Linked DNA regions of Homo sapiens: all the other regions are linked to region 1. The links come from fine-mapping of genetic effects on gene expression. A gene starts in region 1. Each other region holds a variant in brackets. All regions are shown on one strand. Distances are between the middles of the regions.

Region 1 (10,472 bases):
TTGTGTAAAGATGGGGTCTCTCTATGTTGCCCGGGTGGTCTCAAACTCCTGACCTCAAGTGATCCTCACATCTTTGCCTCCCAAAGTGCTGAGATTACAGGCATGAGTCACTTGGCCTGGACCTTCGTTTGGGCTTTCTGACCCAATCCCAGGCCCACCTCCTCCCAGAAGATGTTGCAGACATCGTAGCCGCCTCTGAGTTCCTGCTGCCCTGTGGTGGCTGTGGGAGTTCAGATACCACTTTGTCTCACTTGGTGGTTCACCCAGTTCTCTGAAGTAAGGGCCTATTTGTGCCTGGGCCTGTACTGGGCACTGGGGACACAGGTGAGGTGGAAAAGATCCCTGTCCTCCATCTGGAGGGGACAACAGACCCCGGTACCAATAACCACTGCCCACCCAGACTGGGGGTGAGGGGGCAGCGTAAAAGGGGTCCCAAGGAGTAGGAGGCCCTAGAGGAGACAGGAGGGGTGGCAGCCAGGCTTGCTTGACCCTACAGATCCACATGGTTGATGGAGACTCAGGTCTCAGCCACTGGCCCGGCAGAGAAACAGGGAGCCCGGCACACCTGCAGCTTCCAGGCTCCAGGGATCAGTCGGCAGCAGCAACTGGCTCCCACAGCAGCCCAGCCCTACGCTCACTCCACCACACCCCTGCTGCCCCTGCCCCTGACCCAACATCAGTCTACAGACCATCATTCCCATAGCACATCATAAACTCCACGGCCAGCTCAACAGCCATTAGCCACTTGCCCATCTGACCCCACTGTAGTCCGGGGTTCTAAGAGCGAGAGTGTGGGCACAGGCCCAGGTCCCAAATTCAATCAGGGCAGAAGGCCAAGGAGAAGAATCCAGGGGAAGGAGCTCTGGTCTCACATATCCTGTGCACATACCAGGCAGGCTGTTCTGCCTCCTCGCCTTCCATTTGGTATCTGTAAAAATCTGTAAACTGCATCAATAAAAATATTGAATTTATATTAACATTCTGCACCGTACTGAAAATGTTATCATCACCACTTTACAACTCAGGGAGCTGAGCCCAATGGGGTCAGCCAGTGAACAGCTGTTAAGTGGCAAAGCTGAGCTCCCAGCCCACGTCATATCAACAATGCTACGCTGCTCTCCCCTAGGCCAAGCATGACAGGAAGCAGGGGACCCAGACAGAAGACTCAGCGTGGCTTCTGCCCTTCAGAGGCCCACAGCTGCACCGTTCACTCCATTAGCCACTGGCCACATGTGGCTACTGGGCACTTGAAATGTGGCTGGTCCACATGGAGATGTAAGTGTAAAATGTAGTGTCCATAGATCTCAAAGATGTCGTACAAAAAAATAATGTAGGATACCTTATTAATATTAATATTAATGACATCAAATCCCATTTATTGTTATATTGATTACATGATAATATTTTGAACAGGTTAAATAAATGTTACCAGTTTCATTTTACTTTTTAAAATGTGGCTTCTGACTAGACAAGGTGGCTCATGCCTGTAAATCCCAGTGTGGGAGGCTGAGACAGGTAGATCACTTGAGCCCAGGAGTTTGAGACCAGCCTGGGCAAGATGGCGAAACTTCGTCTCTCTAAAAAATACAAAAAATTAGCCAGGTGAGATAGCATGCACCTGTAGTCTCAGCTACTCAGGAGGCTGAAGTGGGAGGATCACCTGAGCCCAGGAGGTTGAGGCTGCTGTGAGCCGTGATCGCACCCCTACACTCTAGCCTGGGTAACAGAGTGAGACCGTCTCAAAAAAAAAAAAAAAAAAAAGACCTCTAGAAAATTTTGCATTGCATATGTGGCTTGCATTTGTGGCTCACGTTACATTTCTATTGGACAGTGCTGGTCTGCAGCATTATGTATAAGCTGAGTATTATAATCCCATTCTAAGGGATGACTACCAGGCAAAAGGGAAAGGGTCATACAAGCAAGGGGGTCAATGTGTGCAAAGGCCCAGAGGCAAGACAGTTCACACTCACAAGACTGTCAGGTGGGGGATAGGGACTAGGAGTGATACAAAAAGGCACAGTCGCCACAAGCCCAGGCCACAAAGGAGAGACATGAAGGGCAGGTTAGGGAGTGTGGTCCTTATCACTGGAAGACGAGGACCACTGAAAGGCAGGAGCGTGACACAGGCAGGTTTGTGGGTGGACACGAGGGTGCGCAATTGGGACAGGTGAGGGCTAAGGGGCCTGCCCCTGGCAGAGAGAGAGGTGCTGGACTGCAGGAATGGAGGAAGAGGTAAGAAGGACAGACAGGGCTTGGAGAGTGGTCCCTCCAGCTTCGCCAGCCACTCTCAGGGCTGTGAGGCACTGGGAAGGTCCAGCCCTACTACCTGGTTTGCCGTGTGACCTTGGCCATACCACTGACCCATCTGAGTCTAAATTTTCCAACTTTCTTTTTTTTTTTTGAGACAGGGTCTCCCTCTGTTACCCAGGCTGGACTGCAGTAGCACAATCATGGCTCACTGCAGCCTTGGGCTCCTGGGCTCAGGTGATCCTCCCACCTCAGCCTCCCGAGTAGCTGAAACTACAGGCATGTGCCTCCACACCTGGCATCTGGCTAATTTTTTATTTTTAGAAATGGGGTCTCACTATGTTGCCCAGGCTGTTCTTGAACTTCTGGCCTTCTGCCTCGGCCTCCCAAAGTGCTGGGATTACAGGCATGAGCCACTGTACCCAGCCTTGCTCTTCTAAGAATGGAGCAAGATAAGCCCCCCAAGGCCCCTTCTGTGTACCCAGCCATGTGGGAGGTGTGTGGGGAAGAACAGGGGAGCTCCCTGGTCTCCAGGAGTTTCAAGTCCACCTGGTGAGGAACATCTCAAACCCCTGGACAGCGGGGAAGCTCAGCCAGCAGTGAGTGTTTCTCATATGGAGAGCTTTAGAGACAGAAGGGCATGGGTTCCAATTCTGACTGCTGTGTAAGCCTGGATGAGCCACTTTACTGCTCCGAGCCTCTGTTAACTAGTCTAAGAAATGGAGTTGGGAGCTACTTGTGAGAATTAAATGAAATAGCAGTCTCAGCCTGTCACCGCTGGCATCAAATAGGTGTGACATACCAGGGGTTACTGTTACTGAGAAAGTAAGTGGGACCCACTGTCTCCCCTGACCACTACCAGGGAACCAAACCTCAAGGCCCAAAGTGTGAGGTTAAGGTAGGACTAGAAGAAGGAAGGGAAAGGGAGCCCCAAATCAAGAGGCGGATCCTCAGCCCTCAGCACTACCTTCCTTCTCCACTCAAAGTCAGTACAAATCAACTGACCACCTGCTCTGTGCTGGGCCCCAAACAGCTGCATCTTATTGACTCTAATAGAAATCCTGGGACTACATGTTCGTCTTTCTATTCTGCAGATTTGGAGCTCAAGCACAAAGGGCTGGCATTGCTGCCCATCCCTAGAAAGCTCCTGCTGAAATGCCCCTGCTCAGGGAAGCCTCTCCTGCCCCCTTGGCTGGGTTAGGGTGTTTCTGGGTGCTTCCACAGCAACCTTGGCTGGCTTTATCCTTCAAGTCTCAGCTGGGCCTCCCCTGTCTCCCCAAGCATGGAGTGGGGGTGCTGGGGAAATGTTTGCTGAATGAACGACTTTGTGAAAGGCAGAGTTGGAAAAGATCTAAAGATCTGCAGTATGATCTGCTCTGACTCCCCCAGTTTGCAAATTAGTGTGTTAAAGCCAAGGCCAAGAGTAAAATGTGGGTCTTCTGACTCCTGCCCAGAGCCTTGAGTTGGCCTTGAAGACTGAGCGGGAGTTCTCCAAGTGGACGGAGTGGGAGAAACAGCCCTCCAGGCAGAGGTAGAGTGTGATCAAAAGGTAGGGGTGGGGCTAGAGGAGAGGGACGTGTGTTTAAGGAAGGGTCAACAGGGCGGGAGGCCTGGGTGGCCAAGGGCCTCCACCGCCATGCTAGTGTTGGTGATAGGGACTCATTAAGGGTTCCAAGCAGGACACGGCCAGCACTCGCATGTATGACTACACCAAGCCTAAAAGTGCCACCATTAGTAATCCCCTATCCTAGACTCAGACAGAAGGGATAAAGTGTGCTCCCACAGATGACATGAAAACAGTCGTGTGACTCTGACATTTCTTAACTTGCACTCTAGGCTAGAGTAGACTGGGTCTTGGGCCCTAAGAGTGGACATGAGGGAGCAGAACCCCCAGAGCAGTCCCCCCTGGTCTTTCCCAGGGCAGTCCACGGGCTCTTCTGAGTGACCTACCTCGGAATGCTGTGCGCCTGCAGATCAGCCGGCCTCCTTGCTCACCATGAGCCCTCCTGCCTCGCCGCTGCCTTCCCAGTGTGGAAGGTTTCTATATAAAGGAGGGATAGGGGACGGGACCACCCAGGGGCTCTCCCGGTTCACACCAGTGGCGCCTCGTGGAGCAGGGCAGACCACAGCTTCCCCTTCCCTGGCCAGCCGGTAATCGAAGGGCAGACAGGTCAGTAATTCACTCCAAGCGCTGGGTGAGCATCCTCCGCGCCTCCCGGACCAGCTCAGTCAGTGCCGCGCGCACCGGGGCCGGGGTGCTCGCCCCTTGCTGCCGCGCCTGCTCCTCTCCAAAAGGCTGCGGCTGCCTCTCCTAGCCCCAGCCCCCGAGGCTGCCAGGAGCCTCGCAGCCCCGCCACCACCTCCTCTTCCACCTGACGGAGCGTCAGGTATTCCAACGCCAAGATCTCGTCCCCCGCCCCAGGCCGGGCTGTGGCTCGGGGACCTGGAACCTGGGGCTTCTGCCTCATTCGCAGGAAGGCGCGGATCTCGCTCCTCGCGCTTCGCGGACCCCCACCCCTTCCTCCCTCCAGCTGTCCCGGCTGGGAAGCAGCCGCGTAGACAGATAGACGGACTCCAGACCGCCAGCTGAGACCTTTAGCTCAACTAGTGGTTGGCACTAAGCTGGGGCGGCACAGTGGCCGGGGAAGCCGAGCCCCGGAGGGGACCCACCCGGCGTCCGACGCGCCCTGGGGCCAGACCTCTGCCCCTCTCTGGGCCTCAGTTTCTCTATCTATAAAGAGGTGGAGGTTGGAGTCGCTAGGGGGCCTGATGAGTTGACGTGGAAAGACGCGGGGATACTTCGGGCCCAGGCTCTCATGACAGGGGTCCCCGCCCCTACGCAGTTCCACCTGCCCCCCACATTCCCTGTCGCCCGCCGGCGTCCTCCCACTCCAGCCCCCGCCCCCAACCGCCCTCAGATTCTTTCCAGATGTGCGCAGCGGGAGGGGCCTGGGGACGGGGACCAGCCTCTGCTCAGAGAGGAGAAGGCCCCTGCCTGGGTCCTGACTGCGCAGGGGTCGCACTCCAGAGGAGGAGATCTCCGGCCGTGCCCTGGGTGCAGGGTCCTACAGAGGGGGTGAGATGCGGCGGGCCCGCCCCAGGCAGCTGCTGGAGCCATCCGGAGAGGCGGGGACGTCTGAGTGCGCTGCCCGGGCTCAGCCCCCGGCCCCTCGGCCCACCCCGGCTGCCAGCGCCCTGTACCTGCTGCGCCCCGGCGCCGAGCGGCGCCCCACAGGCCGAACGCGCTCCCCCAGTCTCAGCTGCGCTCCGCGGGCTCGGGCTCCTTCCATTCAAGTCAAGCTGGGCGCTCTCCGCGACGCAAGTTTTGTTGTGGGTTTTCTCCTCCCCGCCTCTCTCCCGCCCCCTTCCCCCACTCCCCACCCGCCCCGGGAGCATCTGCTGGACGCCGGCCTCCTTCGGACACAGGCGTAGGGTCCCCCCAGGCGCGGGCAGGAGAAAGCCTGCCCCTCCCCGCTCGGGACTTGGCCGGTTCCCACTTCCCGGGGAGGCAGAGCCGCCGCACCGACCCCTCTCAGCCCCGGCCGCCGCACCACGCCCCCCGAACCCCCACCCGGGAGACCGGGAAGGCGGGCTGTCTGGTCCGCGACGCTTCCTAGTTCCCAGCCTTCCGCACTGGAACTGGACCCCCTTTAGGCCCCGACACCTGAAAGGAGGGCTGGGGAGAGGGGTCCTTCGACCCAGTGCCTCTGAGCTGTATCTTCCTCATTACAGAGGATGTTGCAACCGCTCCAGGCACGAGTACCTTTCCGTTCACTCTCCCACCCTGGGGTCCTGGGCCGTGGCTAATGGGGCCGCCAGCCAAGACCCTGCTGGGCCTCTTCCCGGAAAAGTTCCCCACGCTCCACCCCACCCTCCACTCCCATCCCTGTTGGCCCTGGGCCCACAGCCTGGTGAGCCTTGAAGAATGGTAAATTGGGCCGGAGTCGGGGACATGCAGATCCCAGTCACAGAGAAACAGGGCGGGTGAACAGTGAGACCTCACACCACCATATTGCTCCCAGGAACTGAAAATGTTTCCAAGTAAAGGAGTATTAACTACTACCAGCTGAAGCAACACTGTTTGGCGCCAGGGGCTTCGGCGGTGGAACAGGCAATGCGGCTGGGCTTAGGTGGTACTTGGCACCTCCACTGTGTAGCAAGCCTCCTCCCCTTACCTGCTCTGGCCTGTGGGCAGGGCATCCACAGCTGCCTCACCTGGCTGTCCTCCCACTGAAGAGGGAGAAGGATGCATAAGTCACACGTGGGACCCCTTGCTCAACCTTAACCTGAATGAATGAATGAATGAATGGCCCCTGTAAAGCAGCTCCAGACTTTTCACTGGCTGCCGCCCCCGTGAGGTTATACCATATGCATTATGCTCTGCTTCACAACTCCGCAAAGGAAGAACTGCTGCTGCCCCACTTTATAGAAAAGAGATGGCCTCAGAAAGGATACTTGACTGAGTAAAATGCCCATTCACTGGCAGAGCTGGGGTTTTGACCCCAGGTTTACCCTTCTCCACAGCCCAAGTTCTTCCCATGATGGAAACAGGCAGGTAACTTGAGCAGGCAAATGTAGAGTCTAGATTTGAACCCAGGACTGTCTGTTTCCATTACACCAACAACCCAAGAACTTAGCAAGAATGGGGAGGGAAAATATTTTGCCTTCTTTGGCCTCAAATTCCAGTCCTTTTGGAGCTCAAACTCACAAGAGTTGGTGTGATTCACAGCATTGGACCTGGACCAACAGAGATGCATCTCGTGTCTTCTCCTGAACATTGAGCCTAGATTCAAGTAGAGCTAAAAGGACAGGATTCTACTAGCTTGAATACTCATGGACTAAAAATCTTTTAGGACAATGAGAGCCAGCACATATTGAGTGCCTAATAAATGACAGGCACCATCCTAAATCCTTAAAATATCTTAATCATCCTAGCCCTGTGGGGAAGATATTCTCTATACTTATAACTGCTAAGGCCAAGGTGTTTCAGGGGCCCGCTACACGGCACACCACACACCCAGTACCCACCACCTCCCAGAGAAATAGGCTTTTCTATGGAATGCTGAGCAAATGCCCATGTGTGCTTTGTGGTTGGCTGCTACTATAGATACAAGCTGCAGGAGGAATCACTTTGAGTGTCTCTGGTGGAAAAATGGAGGCAACCTTGGTGCTCTAGAAGCAAATCCTCTTTCAGAAGGATTGTAAAGGCAGAGTTTGAAATTGAGGTTTCCTGAATCTACTTGTGCTGCTTCAATTCCTTCATGCTGCCCCTCAATTTCAGCTCCTGTTTGATATTACTGAAGTACATAGTGTCAAGTACAAGCTTTAAGCTTGGAGCTGGGTTCAAATCCTAGCTAGGTTCAAATGAATATAAAAATAGTACCTACACTTCACAGTATGTCTAAATTGGAGAATGCAAGTACAGAACTTTACATAGTACCTGTCACATGGTAAGTGCTCAGTAAATGGTAGCTATTACTGCAAAACTATCACCCAGACCTGACCAAATAGCCAGGAAACATTATTAAAATAGAAATGACAAGTGGCAAGAATTAAACAGTAACCTCTGTACTGCCCAGGGAAAGTGCCTTCTAATTCAAAACAATAAGAAACAAGAACACTCCAAAGAGGAGGGAGGAAAGACATACATTGATACGGTAGAGAGAGCTAGGAGTAAAGAACAAGAAGGCTCTCAGTGGGGTTTGATGATGAGAAACAGGAGATGAGGAACAATGAGCTCTTGTTATGCCTCATCATCAAAGAAGAAAATAATTCCTCCTACTTTGAGCTGAGGGCTGAGATCTTATTAAGCAGTAGAGTCCCAAATAGCTATGGCAGCAGCTTGATTTTCTGGACATTTAAGGAATCAAATCACATGGTGGTGTTTGGGGTATATGAATTCCATCTGAAGGACCTTGATGAAGGCAAGACTCTCCAGGGAACAAGAAGAGAATAATGAAAAATCTTCAGTCCAAGTCAAGTACACAAGGAGTCTCCTGGGCTGCTATAACATCTCATACAGACTCTTTATTATTGGAACTTTCTTGCTGTTTTTCCTCTTTCTCCCACTGGATTGTGAGTCCTCCAGGGCAAGAATCTCATGTTCTGCAAGCTCTCCTCTCTCACCCTAAAATACCACTGTGATAGGCAGAATACCCCCCAACCCCGCCCCAAAGATATCCACACCTTAATCCCTAAAACCTTTGGATATGTTACATGATGAAAGTGACTTTGCAGATGTAACTAAGGTTACGGACTTCAAAATAGGGAGCATATTCTGGATTACCCTGGTGGGCCTAATCACATGAGCCCTAAAAAACAGAGAACTTTCTCTAGCTGGAGAGAGAGAAGATGAAGCAGAAGAGGAGGTCAGAGAGATTTGAAACATCAGAAGGACTTGACTAGCTTTAAAGATGAAGAGGGTCATAAGCTAGGGAATAAGGCAGCCTCTAGAAAGTGAAACACCCGTAGGCTGCCAGGAATGGTACAGGGACTTCAGTCCTACAGCGGCATGAAACAGAATTCTGCCAGCATCTGAATGAATGTGGGAGCAGAGCCACCTTCTCCCCTGGAGCCTCTAGATAGGAGCCCAGGGCAGCAATACTTTGACTTCAGCCTTGTGAGACCCAGAGCAAAGAAACCAGTCAAACTCAACCAGACTTCTAGGCTACAGAACCGTTAGATAATAAATTTATGATCACTACTTTGTGATCATTTGTTTCATCAACAATAGAAAATAAAACAAACATGAATAACTAAAACTGGTACACACTTTCCCACACACTGTTTCACTTGATCTTCACAGCAAACATGATGGTATTATTGCCCCATTATTTTGGAAAAGGGGTGCTCAGGGAGGATATGCAACTTGCTCAGGTGACCCAGCTAATGAGTGCTTGAGTCAGAATTCAAACTCAGTCTTCAGGTTCCAACTCCAGTGAGAGTTGTCTCCCACACTGTAGCCAGCCAACTAGCTGTTACCTTAAGCTAAATAAAAATGGATGAAAAAAAGACAAAAAACAAATTCAGACTACTTTCATACTACAAAAACTTGAAGCTTTTGAATTCTCATTTCTTTTGAAGACTGTTTCTTCCAAAGGTATGTCATGTTTCTTCCAAATTAAGTTATGAACCAGTCAGGGTATAAACAAGTAAGCAAAAAGATCTCAAGTCTTCTTTCTAGCATATAGAAGAAAAAAAGATTTTGGTAACTGCAAACGGAGAAACCCTCAAGAGCGGCTGTCAATGAAATACCACTTTCTCCTGTTCAGATGATCTTTCAGCCACTATTAAGGTACATCTCCCACAATGAAATGCCCTGTTTTTGCCTTGTGGGTCTAGAAGCATCTCTGTGGTTGGAGCTTCTAGTCCACTCATGACCGATTTTTATTGTCTGGAAATTCAATGGTATTCAGTCTGAAATTTCTCTTTCTATATTCCTTCCCCTTACTTCTAATAACTAAGCAAAATAATTCCTCTCCCTCTTTGGTCTTTCCATCTCTCGAATATTCGTGAACTGATATCACACCCTGCGTTTGGGTATCATTTTGCCAAGCTTAAGTCTTCTTTCAGCCTGCCTAGTCAATTGTTCCTATACTACTGTGTCTTCGTGTCAAGTTATTTTCTATTTCTGTTCTAATAAAGTGTCTAATCTTGAACAGAGTGCTCTGTACACAACAGAAGGTGCCATATTCTAAAAGGTGAATCACACAACAACTTCCAGAGAGAGAAAAAAAATCACTGTTTGGTAGTTGGTTAGACAACTATCTGCAATTTAAATAAACAGCAGACTACAATTTCCCCCAGTTCTACATAAAAGTTTATGGCCATAAATTCAGAAACAAAAAGGTCAAGCACTTACTACATGCTGCTGGAAACAGTACTGTGAATATTTACAAAGTGTTTAAATGACCATTAATAGAATAGATAGACCAAATGCACATGACTTTTTGCAATAAGCTTTCATTACATTTTTAAAAAATTATTTCCCCTAGAAGTCTGGCTAAAATTCCATACCAAACTAAACTTCCAGCCAAATGGAACAGACTCCACATTTCTTAGGGGCCAGAAATCTGGCCCAATATTCTTTGTTCTTACCAAGAACTAAAGAGCTGTTTGTTCGCAGCAGTCTCCAGATAGATATAATACGAGACTGTTCCAGAAGATTTTGTAACTCTCTATTGAGAAAAACTCTAAAATTTGGCCAGATATGGCTGTGGTTCCTA
Region 2 (8,000 bases), 73 kb before region 1:
TGCAGACTCCAGAACGTAACAGAGCAAGATGCTGCACTAGGCAGGGTGAGGCTGGGGTTGAAAGCCTGGGCATGGTTTGGAGTTTTGTAACCAGAGCAGTTAGACCCCTAGGGACCTTCCAATTCAGTTGGGGGACTCATCCACCCATCTCCACCCACTGCCTGCCCCAAGGAACCAGAGAAGCTGGACTTGAGGGTATTGGGCCACCCCTGTGTGTGTTGGGGAGAGGGCCATGCTGAGGCACCTACTTCAAACTAATTAACAGACATCCTTGTCTGAGTGGGGTCCCCAGCACGGTTTCAGATCGCTGTCAGCTGAGCTTAGGCACCATGTCATTCCTCAGCCAAAGGCAGGAAGAGACTTCTCTCACTGAGGCCTCAGAGAAAAGATCTCTAAATTCTGCTATAAAGGAGACTCCTCTACCATCCCACCCAGCCCCAGTGAAAAAGCCAGATCAGCACCTGTCACCCTGCCCTGAGGGCCGTCAGTTGACAAACCCTACTCATACATGCAGAAGTTTAGCGCTTCAAACTTACATACGAGCAGAAAGCCACGCCACCAGAAATGTGAGGAGGCTCCTAATGTGAAACAGAGTAAACGAAGAGAAAAGGGGGTCTCTAATGAGAGAAACAAAGAGAAAAGTGGGTCTCTAGTGAAGCAGAGACAAGGCGGGGAGGAGAAGGAAGCTTTGTAAATCTCCTCTTAAGCTTTCTGGAGCTGCGAGTGAAGATATAGTTACCGTACAACAGAGGGGATGTGAAAAGAAGGAACAATCAGAGAACAAGAAAGAATCTGGGGAAATTAAAAATAGAAGAACTAAGATAAAAATGTGAGTAGCTGCCCAACACATAGAAAGGATAAATACTCGAAGTGTTGGAGACCCTGAATACCCTGATTTGAACATTACACAGTGTATTTAACAATATACCAACTGTATCCCATAAATATGTACAAATATTATATATTAATATAAAAACTTTGGCTAGGCCTGGTGGCTCATGCCTGTAATCCTAGCACTTTGGGAGGCCAAGGCGGGTGGATTGCCTGACCCCAGGCATTCAGGGCCAGCCTGGGCAACATGGTGTGAGACCCCATCTCCAAAAAAAAAAAAAAAATTAATGTCAATAACTGGGATAAAGTTGTAGAAATCTCCCAGAAACTAGAACAAAAATAAATGAAAATAGAAAAAGAAAATATAAGAAAATTAGAATGTTCAATGTCCAGCTACCTAATGACACTTTTAGAGACAGCTAACAGAAGAAAAATAGAGGAGAAACAGTTTGCAGAGAATCTAAGCAGTTTCTCAGAAGTGAAAGGCAAGCATAGCACTGTCAATTTTGTTTACAAAAGAAAGAAAACCCCATACTATGGCCCATCACCATGAAATTACCAAAAAGTGGAGATAAACTGATGATCTTTGGATGGTTCTGGTGGAATAAAACCAACCTCATCTAAGGAACAGGAAATCAGAATGGCTTTGAACATCTTAAGCAAACTGGAAGCTAGAAGACAAGGGAGAAACACCTTCTAAACCTGAGGGGAAATTATTTCCAACGAAGTATCTCACACATGGCCAGGCTAATATCAGAGGTAAAGGTAGAATAAAGGCATTTTTACTCATGTAAGGACTCAGAAAAGTTTATCTCCCATCCACTCTTTCTCAGAAAGCTACCAAAGGAGATGTTTCAGCAAAACAAGGAAGTAAACCAAGAGGACAAAGGATCCCAGAAACAGGGGGCCCTCTAAAGGACAAGTCCCAGAATGACAACCAAGAAGGAAACCATGACAAGCACTGGGCCTAGAGAGCAGTCAGTCCAAACTGGAGCAGGAAGGTGGAAAGCTCACAGACCAAGGCCCCAGGCAGGATAAAAGAGAACTGATGTGCTTGAGAGAGCAGAAAATACTATTGTTAGGTAGTTTAGTAGACATGTTAAAATGTTTGGAAGAAATTAGTGGGTGATTCCCAGAAAACAAGACAAATAAAAATCAGTCAATTAACTTTAGGCTACAAGCAAGGAGACATGGTTGTAGTACATTACTTGGCTCAATGGTAAACACTGTTTGGCGATCAAAACATTGTAAATCTTGATTTACTAAAAAATTGATATAAATATAATGCTGAAATAGGTGGAGAGAAAGGGAGTAAGAACTAACTCCTCATCAATCATGGCAGGGAAATTGATAGATGTCAAAATGATGAATCAAGAAATAGCATTATGACCATATTATCTAGAAATAGTGATACTATGGGAAACAGCTAGAAGAACTGAGCATGTTCACTACTGGGAAGTTGCAAGATAGGGATAGAGAGAGGTGAGGCAAGAGCTGCCTTTTTATCAGTAGAGCACTTTTTTTTTTTTGGAGATAGCGTCTCCCTCTGTTGCCCAGGCTGGAGTGCAGTGGTGCGATCTTAGCTCACTGCAATCCCCGCCTCCTGGGTTCAAGCGAATCTTGTGCTTCAGCCTCCTGAGTAGCTGGGACTACAGGCATGCACCACCATGCCCAGCTAATTTTTGTATTTTTAGTAGAGATGGGGTTTTGCCATGTTGGCTGGGCTGGTCTCGAACTCTTAACCTCAAGTGATCCACCTACCTTGGCCTCCCAAAGTGCTGGGATTACAGGCATAAGCCACTGAGCCTGGCTATTAGAGCACTTTTAACTTAAAGAATATATACATGTGGGTGCCAGTGCAGTGGCTCACACCTATAATCCCAGCACTTTGGGAGGCCTAGCTGGGAGGACTGTTTGAGTCCAGGAGTTTGAGACTAGTCTGGGCAACATAGTGAGACACTGTCTCTACAAAAAATACAAAAATTAGCTGGGCTTGGTGGCATACATCTGTGGTCTCAGCTACTCGGGAGCCTGAGGTGTGAAGATTACTTGAGCCCAGGAGGTGGAGGTTGCAGTGAGCTGAAATCATGCCACTGCCCTCCTGCCTGGGTAACAGAATGAGACCTTGTCTCAAAAAAAAAAAAAAAAAATATATATATATATAATATATATATGTTTTTATATATTATATATGTTTATATATATTATATATGTTTATATATTATATATGTTTATATATTATATATGTTTATATATATGTTTATATATATTATATATATGTTTATATAAATATATGGACTAAAGTTAATTAAAAATATATTGTTGGCAGGGCATGGTGGCTCACGCCTGTAATCCAAGCACTTTGGGAGGCCGAGGCGGGCGGATCAACAAGGTCAGGAGATTAAGACCATCCTGGCAAACATGGTGAAACCCCATCTCTACTAAAATACACAAATTTAGCCGGGCATAGTGGCGCGCACCTGTAGTCCCAGCTACTTGGGAGGGTGAGGCAGGGGGATTGGTTGAACCTGGGAGGCGGAGGTTGCAGTGAGCCGAGATGGCACCACTGCACTGCACTCCAGCCTGGTGACAGAGCAAGACTCTGTCTAAAAAATATATATATATAATATATAATTATATATATTATTTTATATATATATATATAGAGAGAGAGAGAGTCATGATGGGCATATTTCTTTAAAAAGCAGATTTTCTGGTGCATTGGAAATGTTAGCAGTCCTGGTCCTGTGCTGCGGTTAACATTGGGTGGGTCTGTCACCTCCCTTTTGCGGTTCAGCTTCCTCATCTATCACATGAGTGGGCTGGGCTAGAAGATCTCAAGAGTCCCCTCATAGCACCAACATTTGATGATTTGGAGATTTTTAAAGCATCAGATCATCAACCGAGTATGTTTGGCTTTGGTTAAAAAAAAATAGTTGCAAGTACAACAATTCAACTTGGATGATGTTTGAAAGTCCATTTGCCTGCCTCGCCCACAACCTCACCCTCTGAAGAAAGTGGCCCCATGCCAGGGTTGCCAGAAGTAGCAGAACTGAATTAAGTTAAAAAATTTTATAAACAGCACACCCAGTTAAACTGGAGTTTCAGATAAACAGCATTTTTTTTTTTTAGTATAAGAATGAACTATATGTTGTTATCTGAAAGTCTGATTTAACTGGGCTTAGCAGCCCTTCTGCTTCAGTTGTCAGGTCCTGGTCACGTGACTGTTACTTGCGAGACAGCTTAT[T/C]GGGCAAGGAGTTGGCGCCTTAGTCAGAGATCCGTGGACAGGCTGGAGCCAGCGGCCTAGGAAGGGGTCAGGCGTAAGAACTCTGCCAAAGGGGGCTGTTTCTACCGCGTGGTGTTGCACCCATTCAATCTGATCCTCTCTCTCTCAGCATTTTCGAGGAGAAGCACTAGAGAATGGACCCAAAACAGATGGAGAAACTGACTCGCAAGGCGGCCATGGTCTGCTTAGGAGTGGGTCTCCTCACCAGCTAGGCTGGGAACTTCTCAGGACAGGAACCCTGCCTAGTTCATGTTGGGGTACCCACTGTGATGCGTGGCACGATGCGGGTTGAATGAATGCATGAACAGTACTCGGCTCTGTCCTCTGGTCACCTGCCATCTGCTACACGAGAGAGATTTTATTCCATGGCTAGGCAGATGCGTGGTGCAGATGGAGGAGAGCTGTTATTTTCAGGATTACCAAACATTGGCTGTCATCCAGGCGCTGTGCTAAGTGCTTGCGTGCATTCTCCCGTTTAAGCCCCCCAATGACCCTGTGAGGCAGAGCAGTCCCCCCTTATCCGCCATTTCGCTTTCTGTGATTTCAGTTACCGATGGTCTGAAAAATGGGTGAGAACAGTACTGGAAGATATTTTAAGAGAGACCACATTCACATAACTTTTATTACAGTATATTCTAATCGCTCCATTTGATTATTAGTTACTGTTAATCTCTTACTGTGTCTAATTTATGAATTACATTTTATCGTAGGTATGTACATATAGGAAAAAAACAACGTCCACAGGGTTCAGTCTCTGTGGTTTCAGGCATCCACTGGCGGTCTCGGAACCTGTCCGCTGAGAATAAGTAGGGACTACTGTAGTTATTACCCTCATGTTACAGATGAGAAAAATACAAAACTCAGAGTGGTCACAGAAGATGCTTAAGGCCACACAGCTTGTGGGGGATTGGTGGAGGCGGGGTGTTTACCAGGATTGGAACCCAGTTCTGTGGCTCCAAAGCCAGTTCTTTCTCCATGGTCTCTGCTGCCATGTGCTAGACAGGGGAGTCAGATGGGATAGTGCTTCAAAGACTGTGAAGAACGGAACCACTGTGCAGTCTGCATCTCTTGCTATAACCCCAGTTCTTACTGTGTTTTCAGGAAATTAGTTACTTCCAGTTCCCTGGAGAGCTCCTGATGAGGATGCTGAAGATGATGATCCTGCCACTGGTGGTCTCCAGGTGAGAGCGGGGGTTTGACCAGGTGGTCCGGAACCAGGAGGGTAGAGGATGGCTTCTGTTGCTGCCCTGCTCCTGCTGTGGGTGGCTGGAGAGCAACCACAGGCCCTGGGATGAGTGTGACCGTGGGGCCTTTATGGGCAGTGCCGTGGGCTGCCGGCTTCTGAGTCATTCAGTGGCCCCAGTTGTTGGTTCCATCCAGTAGAATTTTTAGTGGATAGAACAGGTGATTTGGAATCAACGGATATGACCCGACTCCAAGATAGCTCAAGGCCAGGGAGTTGAGGGTTGGCTTCCCAGAGGAGGGGCTGTTCATGGTAATGCAGCAAGGCCTGGGGAAAAGAGAACTAACTCTGAGGATACTCCAGTGATCACAGCCTGGCTTGGCTGTGTAACCTTGGACATATTACCTCACCTCTCTACGCCTCAGTTTCCTCATCTGTAAAATGGGAATAACAACACCTACTTCGAAGGGTTGTCATGAAGACTATATGTTGTGTATGCTGAGCACTCAGGAGGTTGGGACTTGGGGACAAGGGCGGGATGGTGCGAGATGAATTTGGACGGTGAGCTCTTGCCCAATCATGAACGACCTTGAACACCAGGCTGAAGAATTCAGACCTTACCCAGTAGGGTGCGGGCCATGGAAATCATGGGAGATCACTTGGTCCCTTTCACTGATGTGCTAGGTGAACTTGAGCAACCCTATCCCTGTCCAGGTCTTGAGTATTCCAGATGTATAATGAGTGGCTGCTCCAGGTGGTGTCTAAGAGCCTTTTGCTCTGAGGCCATGAGAAATCTTCATCTTCCAGGACTCCTCTGCAGAGAGGAAAGAGGATGAGCCTCTGCATGCGTTCTGCCTCCCAGCCTCCCTGCTGCTGAGCAGTGAGCCAGCTCCTTGGACCTCCCCCCTTTGTGAAGTGGAGATAATCCCCAGGCCAAGGGCGCTTTGTATTTTCTGCACAGAGGCCTTTGCAAGCAGCATTTAAATTTCTCAGGACTCAGCCTTCAAGGCTCTGCTGAAATGCTACCTCCCTCAGGAAGCCTTCCCTGACTCCTCAACTCACTCTAGTGACTGTCTCCTCTTTCTGCATCTTTGGAGTCATTCACTGAGCCTGTGAATCTGTCAGGGTCAGCAGTCCTCTGTGTTGCTGAATCTGTACGACACGTCCAGTTCTTCCACACGGCCTCTCCACAGCCATGGGTGCAGCTGATTACTCTTGCCCTCATGAAATGCCCTTCCCTATGGACTCACACTCTTCTAACTTTTTGCCTGCTTTCTGCCCCTCCATCTTGGTCTCTCTCCTTCTACTCAACCTCCAAATGTTCAGCTTCTCCAGCCTTTTCTCATCTAATTTCATAGCTTTAACATACCACCTACAAGCCCAATGCCCCCAGATGGAGATCTCCCCAGACCTCTCCTGTGAGCTCCATACTTCATTAACCAACTGCCTATTTGACATCTCCACTTGGATGTTTCACAAACGTTTCAAGTTTTGTTTTGTTTGAGATAGGATCTTGCCCTGTCGCCCAGGCTAGAGTGCAGTGGCACAATCTCAGCTCACTGCAGCCTCGGCTTCCTGGGTTCAAGTGATCCTCCTACCTCAGCCCCCCAAGTAGCTGGGACCACAGGCACACACCACCACACCTAATTATTTTTTGTATTTTTTGTAGAGGCGGGGTCTCACCATGTTGCCCAGGCTGGTCTCAAACTCCTGAGCTCCAGCAATCCACCTGCCTCAGCCTCCCAAAGTGCGGGAATTATAGGCATGAGCCACCGTGCCCAGCCACACTTCAAGTTTAATGTCACCAACTTGAAGTTCCACCCAGAAAACTGCCTCCTTTTCCTGTTTTCTTCTTGTCTGCAAATGGCAGCTCCATCACCCAGGTCTTCCATCGGGCCTGTCATTGGCTATCCTCTTTCTCTCAACCCCACAGCCCCATCCACAGTTCCAGTGGATTCTGCCTACTCAGTCGAAGAATGGAGCTTCCTCCCAACCCTACAGGCCCGGGCACTCTCTTCTCACGTCCAGACTCCACCGCCACCTCACTGGTCTCCTCGCCTCACTTCTTGTCCCCGTCCCATCTATTCCACCCAGTGGCCAGAAGGATCTTGAGAAAAGCAGATTGGGCCCTGCCCCTCATTTACCTTCAACAGCTTCCATGACATGTAGAATCAACCTGCAGACCATTAACCTGGTCTAGGAGGCCCTGCATGATCTGCCTCGCCCACCCCACCTCATCCCATGTCACATACTCCAGTCCCACCAGCCTCAAGTTCCCTAAGCAGACCAAGCCCTTACCATCTCAGGGCCTCCACACGTGCTGTTCCTTCCTCTGGAACATGCTTCCCCAACATCTTACATCTCTTCTTCTTCCTCTTTTTTTCCATCTCAACTTGCACATCATCTTCTTAGGAAGGCCCTCCCCACCAACCCCTTCATGCCACCCTGGCTCTCCCTTACTGTACCCTGTTCCCTCCCGGCCACAGCACATATCATATGTTGTCATTCTATATGCATTCACTTGTTAACTGGTTTCTTTATCCACTGGGCTGTAAGCTTTGCAAAGTTAACGAGGCTACTCTGCCTAGATTCAACTCTGTGTTGTCAGCACCTAGCCAAGTGCCAGGCACATAGTAGGTGCTCATTAATACTGGTCAAGTGAATTAATTAATGGATCCTGCAATCATGCATTGTGCTTTC
Region 3 (8,000 bases), 62 kb before region 1:
TATCTCCTGGTTCTCTGTGTGTGTGTCTGTGTGTATTCGTTATCATTGCCGTGTAACAAATTATCACAAACTTAGTGACATAAACACACTTCATGGTTGCCTCAGTCCCTGGGCCAGCAGTCTGGGCGGGCTTGGCTGAGTCCTCTGCTCAGAGTCTTAGGCTGCAATCCAGGTGTCCGCTGGGCTCTGTTCTCATCCGGAGGCCCAACCAGGGAGAATCCGCCTCCATGCTCCCTCAGGCATGGACAGAAGTGATTCCCCATGGCTGCTGCCTGAGGGCCCAGCATTGACAGCTGTGCAGTGGAGCCACTCAGGTTCTAGAGGCTGCCTGCAGCTCCCCACCCAGCTGTCTCCACAGGCAGCTCACAGCATAGCACTGTAGGTCATCAAGGCCAGCAGGAAGCCCGGTCCTCACCAGTCTTCTGAGTCAAAGTCTTCTACCACATAACCACAGGGAGACATCCCACCACCTTGTTGTGTTCTCATAGAAGTCACAGGCACTGCCACACTGCGGGAGGAGGATATACCAGGGCTTGGGTCATCGGGGTGGCCTGAGGGCCTGTCCACCTCCTTCTCTCTCCTGGAACCTTCCTTCTCTCTTCCTCTGTCCCCAGAGCAGCTGGATGTCTTTCAGAAGTCACTTCTGCTCACCTCTCTCCCTGGAGCCGGCTTGGGTTGAGTGGAGCCACTGCTCAGCTTCTGTCCAAGTAGTTCATCAAGAACTTTCTTCTGAATAAGGACTGCTCCCTTACTGTAAAAATAATTCTGAAGAATATAACTCTCCCCCTTTCATCTGATTTCTCACTGCCCCATACAGGGCCTGCTACTGCCTGTGCCTGATCAATACATTTTCAATGAATAAGAAGCAGCAGAGGGCAGCGGCAGCAGAGTTCAGGGAAAGTCTCACCATCAGCATTTGTATGGGCCCTGGAGGACAGTTAGGAGCTGAACTTTAAAGATGTTTTCATATTTTAAAAAATTAGATAAAGCCCTGGCAACATAGTGAGACCCCATCTCTACAAAAAAAAAAAAAAAAAAACTTTTAAAATTAGCCAGGCATGATGGTGGGCACCTGTAGTCCTGGCTACTTGGGAGGCTGAGGTGGGAGGATCGCTTGAGCCCAGAAGGTTGAGCCTGCAGTGAGCCATGTTCATGCCATTGCACTCCAGCCTGGGCAACAAAGCAAGACCTTATCTCATAAAAAAAAAAAATTAGATAAGCAAATTACAAACATTTTGGATAACAGAGAAGAAACCATCCTCTCACTCCACATTGCTAATTCTGCCACTGTGATTTCTTCTCTACAAGGTTTGTTCTTATTCTTACTGGTGAATTCACCAGATGTGAGGTGAGGTCCTTGGCTGATGGGATCAGAAGCCCAACTGTCTGGGCCCCAGAGCTGGTTGGGCCTGTCCCCCGATGCTAGCAAGGGGCAATCAAATATGCCACATACTGATTTATTCATTCCCAGAGATCAAGACACTTGCCAGCAAGGACAGTCATATGCAGGCTCTGGCCAGAGCCTCTCTGTGGGCTTACCATGCAGGGAACCCACTGGTGAAATCTGCTTGCTGGTGGGTACATTTAGTTATTTAACTGTATAACCCGGCGTAACTCCAGGTTTGCGGTTTTCAGTTTATTTCAGCCCTCCCACCACCCCCGCCTTATAGTGGAGTCCCATCATATGTGCATTTAACTTAAGTGAATTCAATTACATGTGCTCTGAAAAAGGGAGAAAATCATTTAAATGAGACAGGAGACTCCTCCTTCCAAGGGCTCTTCCCCAGGTGAGGGCCACGAGAGAGGAGGGCCTGAATTGCCTCCACCAGCCGCTGTGCCCAGGCACCTCCTGAACAGTGAGCACCTCCCTGAAGCCAGAGAGTTTCTAGGGCCTGCAGAGGGGTGGGTGTTTTAGATCACGGCCTCTGAGTGTATGCTGATGCTCTCATCTGGTGTTTGCTTAAAGAAACAGCAACCCACTCCAAGGCTGGAAGGGAAACTGTCTTGAATGAACTTACACAAAACTATACCTCCTGGACTCTATGGGCAACTTAAGAGATTTTCAAAGGCAAAATTAATTACACTTTGTTTTTGCTTTACTGACTTGAAACTGAATACACTGAATATGGTCCTACTCCCCTGTACTAGCAGGAAGCCCAGTGTGTCCCTCTGGAGGCCTCCACCCCGTGGCCACAGTCAGCTTATTTCATTCAGTGGAAGCTTCTGGTGTAAACAGAGCTGGAACATGGGGTCCTGCCACCAGCCCTGCTGCTCTGGTTCCCTCCACGGGGTGGCCCTGTGGAACGCAGGTCCCGCACGCTCTGGTGGAAGTCTGCACACTGCCCCTTGCAGGTGCACAACGCTGCTCAGGCCACAGGGATGCCTCCAGACCCCTAGGTCCCCCCGAAGTGCTCAATAATTGTTCCTAAAGCAGCCTCAGTCATGTCCTGAGATCAGCTCCCCGGGAGTTGAGCCCCAATTCCCTTTTCCCTCCTACTGGGTTCATTTTGGAGGCCTTGAATGCCAGGCCATCTCGGCTGGGGGACTCTAGCGTACCCTGGTGCTAACTTCAAATCACAGGGAACTGGGGCTCAGGTCTTAGTCTTTTTCCTCTCAGAAGGCCCTGATCCTCTGGTGCAAATGGGCACAGTTTTCCATAACTCTGCAGATCTCAAGTTCTCAAGGAGGAGGCATTCATCAAGCCACAACAGCTCCTCCCTTCCCCTGACAGTGCTGCCTTCTCATCCGACATTTGCTGCTCAAAAGATTCTTTGCAAAATAAAATTGCCTGCAGGGGAACTTGCTCTGTCCACCCAGGAACAGAGACGCCTTGGACAAAAATTAGAAAATTCTGCCTCACATTACATTAGTATAGGAACGAATCATCTGGACGGGACCTGCATTGGGGCCCCCCTCCCATGGTTTTGCCCTCCTCAGCCGTCTTCCGTGTGCTGCCACAGTTCACTAACGCCATGCCAATTATATCTTTATTTAGAAAAGTCAAGCCTTCAGGGCCTGGGAGCCTTACTTTCCCATTCTTCCCCGAGCAGGCCACTTGTCACTACCCCAATCCTTTTTGCTTTCAACTTACAGTATAACCCAAAAAGTATCTTCCACAAAAATAAATCTGTAGCCTGCTTGCTTTGGTTTTCCCCCAATGTGATGTCATAAGAATTTCCACGCTGCACCTTCACCTTGGTGATCCTGTTTTACTCACCCACTCGGGAGGCACAGAGTTTGCAAAGTCTTTTGCCTGTCACAAGGCACTTGGGAGGCTGCTAGACTCTTGAGGGAGCTGCCCTGCCTCGGGACTGTGGTCTCACCTCGAGTTCACCCTCTTAGCCTCAGCCATAAAATAGGCACAATGCTGTCTGCTAATTTACAAAGCAGGTCCCGGCAGGTGCTCTGTGTGTGTGTTTGTGTGCCCATGTGTGTTTGTGTGTGTGGCCCATTATGGCCCCATTCCACTGAGGCTAGACTTTGCACCTCACCTTGGGAGGTCAACTGAGCCTTGTTTTCACACATCCCCAGACAAGCTTGACACAAGGAATTAGGGGTAAGTCAGACCAGCATCTGGATCCAGCTAGAGCCTCCAATTCTCCACTTGCTTTTTGCCAAACCCTTCTCTCCCCTCATTCTTCAGTTTCTTAAACCAGGCGTCCTTCAGGGGAAACTGAATCCATGTGTTTGTGATTCACTAGGGCTGTGCATGATAGAGTGTTCTGTGAGCTCCACAACATAGCAAAGACAGCCAAGCGTGGGTGTGGGTTTGTCTGTGAAGCTGTGTTGTGTGTGTGTGTGTGTGTGTGTGTGTGTGTGTGTGTGTGTTGTGTATGTATTGTTTTCCTTCCTATTTCTTGTAAGGACTTTAAACTGATTTTTCTTAGAATCAGGAAATCATGTTTGGCCAGAGAAACTCAACACTCCCTTCTCCCCTTCCTGAGGAAC[T/C]CTAGTGTGGCAGAAAATTCCCAAACACCCACATTCTAACTTATTGGAAATGGGCCTGGGCCAAGCAGCCGTCAAAGTCTGGTTTGGGAGCCAGTGTGCAGGGGGCTGCCCAGACTCCCCAGGACAGGCCGTGAGCAGGAGGAGGCAGAGGAGCGGGTGGCCAGAGGGCCAAACCGGTACAGCCTGTGCTTCGGATGCTGCCCTCCGAGTCAGGGGGTAGCCACAGTTTGGCGAGCTCCACTGAACCTTCTGGTGTGAGCCCTGGGACCTGCCTTTGGCCCTTCTGCCCAGTCAGATGATTTGCCTTACTCATCAAGAGGGGAAACGTGGCCCGCTGTGGGCTGCGGGTGGGGTCAGACCTCCAGCCTGGTGACTCCGAAAAGCTCCCAGGCTTTATCCTGCACCACAGACTTCCATGCTCTCGCTCCCTTCCAGTTAGAGAATTCCTACTTGGCCTTCGAGGCTCCATCCAGCTGTGCCCTCCTCTGGGAGGCCCAGCCCGATGCCCGGAGGGCTGGCCCTGCTCTGGCGCTCAGTCACAGCTACCCCCACCCCCGGGTTGGTGTTGCTCTGCTGCTGGTCTCCCCACCCGCTGGCCAGAGCACCAGGAAGAACACAGACCCACCTCATTCCCTTCTGAGCCCCACAGCACCCAGTGCAAATGTTCAACACCGGGCAGGGTGGGCACATATCTCAGAGCCTGGGAAGGTGGGTGAGGTTTTGAAAACTGTGCTGCCGCCCTTCTCTGTGGAGAACCGCTGCACTGGAGAGAGGCCCACAGGATGGCCCCGCCTGAGCCCTGTGCGGGGCAGACTCCAGGGGCCCTGCTGGTGCAGGGAGGGGAGGCAGGAGACCTGAGTTCCCCTGACTCCTCATGATCTTTGCCACATGGGCAAGGAAGGGGTGGGGGATTCAGTTCACGTGGAGTTGGAAACTGGACCTGGCCCTGACTGCCTTAGGGAATGCAGCCTTCTTGGTGGAGAATGGTTGAGAATGGCCGGCAGTCTGACAGTGAGCTCTGAGGGCTGCAGCTGTGGCTCCTCCAGCTTCTGCTTTTGATCCAGTTCAAGCTTATCATTCTCACAGGTCCCAGTGGAGCGCCCTCTTGGCACCCAGGCCTGGGAAGGAGGGACCTTCAGAGGGCAGCAGGGCATGCCAGGGTAGCAGCACCCACCGCCCACACTCTGAGCCCCACACTCTCTCCCACCTTCCCTCCATGGAAATCAAGGTGGAGGCCAAGAGGTTTGGTCCATGTGGCTCCAGAGGGCTGGCTGGGCCCAGTGTGGCCCAATGCTCTTCCCCGGAGGCGGATTTCATTGTGACACCAGGAAGGACTTCCTAATAAGCATCACGAGCTCTTAGTGGAGGGGCTGACTCAGAAGGTAGTGAGTGCTCTGTCCTCTGAGATATGCAAGCAGAGGTGGTGGAGGAATTTCTGCCCTTGGGAGGGTGTGCTGAGACGAGATGGCCCAGACTTTAGCTGAGTGGGAGTCTGGGCATGCTGCCTTAGGCCTCAGGAGGAGTCGGCTTGAGTGTGGGGCTTTGGCAGAGCCGTCTGGGAAGCATGACTTGGAGCTGGCGCTAATGGGCATGGCACTGGCTGTCAGCTGTTGGGCCTGCCTTCTGCTCAGGGGAAAAGAAGAGTAAGCCATGATGCTCAGATGGACTGAAGGGACCCCTCTTGCCCGCAGACCCCCGAAGCCTCCTTCCTGCGGCCTGTCTGGTAGACTTCCTGCAGCTGCATCCCAGGGCCAGCTGGGGAGAGCCTCTGTGGCTAGGTCAGCCAAGGCCAGAGCCCAAGGACTTGGCTGCAGGGCTTGGGGCTCCTCACTGTCCCTCAGGTCCTCCCACTGCCAGGAGGTTGTGACTGGATGCTGTCATGCCAGCAGACTAGGGCTTGAACCCACTTATTGTGTGACTTTAGCAAGTTGCTTGCACACCTCCAGTGACTGGGAGGTCACCACTTCTCAAGGTAGTTCCTGCCAGAGCAGGACAGCTCTGCCAGAAAGTTATTCCTGGTGCTGAGCTGAGAGCCCTAGGGCTTTTCCCATCATCCCCAGCATTCCCAGGTCTGCTCCGCTCCGGACCACACAGCACCTGCCCCCCAGCCCCCCAGCTGCTCCCCGCAACCAGGCACGTGCCTCTATCACCTGCTGCCTACCCAGCTGCCCTCTACAGGACACACACACCCCGCCCCGTCCCTTTCTCAATGAGTCAAAGCAGGTCTGCAGCAGCCTCCACCAGCCCCCGGGCTTCTGAAGCCACAGGCAGGGGGCCCACCAGCCCTTTGGCAGCCCCGCGTCCCAGGTGACTCACCAGCTGGCAGCAAACAAAGCCCAAAGTCCCCTCCCCACGTGTGCAGCCACGGCTCAGCCTCCCCCTCCCACCCCGGTGTTTGTGCACTCCAAGCTGTGGAAGCCAAGTGCGGCCCAACACATGTCTGTGTTCAGGCTCATTGTGTCAGAATTGACTGCTGGGGTCTGCTTGGATTCCCAACTCCCTCATCCAGCACATTAGCTATTCCTCCCAGCTTCCTGTCCTCTACAAATCTGCTCCACATGCTGTCGGGGGCCTTGGCCAAGCCATTGATTAAAATGACCAGAAAGGAGAGGGCCGAAAGCAGAGTCCTGAAGCTGATCTCTAGACACCCTCTCTACTGCCCAGGACATTCAGCTCCTTGTCCCTTCACCAAGCCCCCATCTCTTCCCAGATTTCTGGTGCCAACTGTCTCGATGTCACACAGACACACAACACCGTGGGCATTCCCCTAAGCCCATCCGGGGACCAAGGCTGGTACTGGTGATCTGTTCTCAGGAAACCTTCAATGGCTGCTCAGTCACCTGGGCACACAAGTCGTCCTTTTCACGTCTGATCTAGAATGTCACCCTGGTTCAGCATCACACACATCAGCAACCCTGCACCCAGGCCTGTGCCAGACCTTGGGTTTTAAGGACCTAGAGCCAAACTAGACTTAGCCTTGCCTTGGAGGAGTTCCAGTCTGCTGGGACAGGTGGTCACAGACAGACAGTGAAGACAGAGGAAATTATAACAATTGAAATGCAGTGCGTACTTATCACATGCCATGTACCACTCCAACCCAAGATTTGGCCTCACAGCAAACCGGCATCATCCGCACTCATCCTCAGTGGAAACTGAGGCACACCCAGGCCCAGTCACATGCCCAAGGGCTCGCAGTGAGTGAGGGATGCTTACGGGAGCTTCCTCGCCTTGCCTAGGGCCAGGGCAGCCTTCAGAGGGCGGTGGTGCCTGAGTGGAGACTTCAGAGCTGAGCAGCATCCACAGGACAGGAAAGGAGAAGAAGGCGGGGACTGGGCTCCCGGCACTCCGTGCCAGCCCGTCCTGTGCCAGGTGCTGGGTCAGGCCCTGGGGATTCGGGTTGAGCCCACTAGCAGGGTGCTCCGTAACAAACTGGGAAGCACAGGGTGCCCTGGGGAAGTGGGTGAGATGGCTGCAGTCAGGGAAGGCTTCCCAGAGGCAGTGATGTCTAAGCTGACCCAGGGTTGGGGACATTGGGCCAGGGTTGGGGAAGGGATGGTGGATGGAGAGTTCCAGGCGGGAGGAACATCCAGTGCAAAGGTACTTCCAGGAGCAGAGTGGACGAGGAGGAGAGCGGCCCAGCCCCAGGGGACGCAGGGCAGGGAAGGAGCTGGGATGGTTGCGGAGGGCAATGGGGAGTCACCCCAAACTGGGGGAGGGGCATCCGGCAGCTGGGCAGCCTGCAGGCTCTCTTGGCTCTCTCTGTAGGGAGGTGCGACTACAACTTCGACTTCGTGGGGGCGTGGTTTCTAATCCCTCACCTTTGTAACCAGCGCTTGGCAAATGGCAGAGCTGCCCTGCACCTCCCAGTGTGAGATGGGGTCAGGAGTCCCACCTCAGGGGTTGGTGCGAGAACCAGGGGAGGGTCAGTCAGCAGCCTTTTTCTCCTTCCACCGGGAGCCTGGCAGTCTTTGCCTCCCTTCCCCCACCCCTGCAAGTGGAGCAATTACCAGATTGAGACAGGCTGGGCCTTCCCACTGCCTCTGCGGGTTAAT

Which allele goes with the higher level. Alleles are on the strand shown, and positions count from the first base shown. SD is a standard deviation of normalised expression in the study named. Not every link is listed here.
For the expression in atrial appendage of the gene that starts at base 5,544 in region 1, allele C in region 2 goes with a higher level than allele T (small effect, 0.18 SD a copy in GTEx).

Evidence for each region. PIP is the estimated chance that this variant, and not a neighbour inherited with it, causes the effect.
Region 2: its variant is fine-mapped to the expression of PODN in atrial appendage (GTEx, PIP above 0.99).
Region 3: its variant is fine-mapped to the expression of PODN in lung (TOPMed, PIP above 0.99).

What each region holds. Positions count from the first base shown.
Region 1 is chr1:53,057,285-53,067,756 of GRCh38, reverse strand. PODN (podocan) reads right to left here and starts at 5,544. Exons shown (of 11, transcript NM_153703.5): 1 at 5,449-5,544. RefSeq lists a silencer at 5,379-5,566.
Region 2 is chr1:53,131,648-53,139,647 of GRCh38, reverse strand. SLC1A7 (solute carrier family 1 member 7) reads left to right here. Exons shown (of 11, transcript NM_006671.6): 2 at 5,219-5,298. Among named protein-coding and RNA genes, the nearest start is that of SLC1A7, 7.0 kb to the left of the region's middle. The variant T/C (reference allele first, on the strand shown) is at 4,079.
Region 3 is chr1:53,120,078-53,128,077 of GRCh38, reverse strand. The region is part of intron 2 of SLC1A7 (solute carrier family 1 member 7); the gene reads left to right. Among named protein-coding and RNA genes, the nearest start is that of SLC1A7, 19 kb to the left of the region's middle. RefSeq lists enhancers at 5,359-6,158, 2,695-7,472. The variant T/C (reference allele first, on the strand shown) is at 3,949.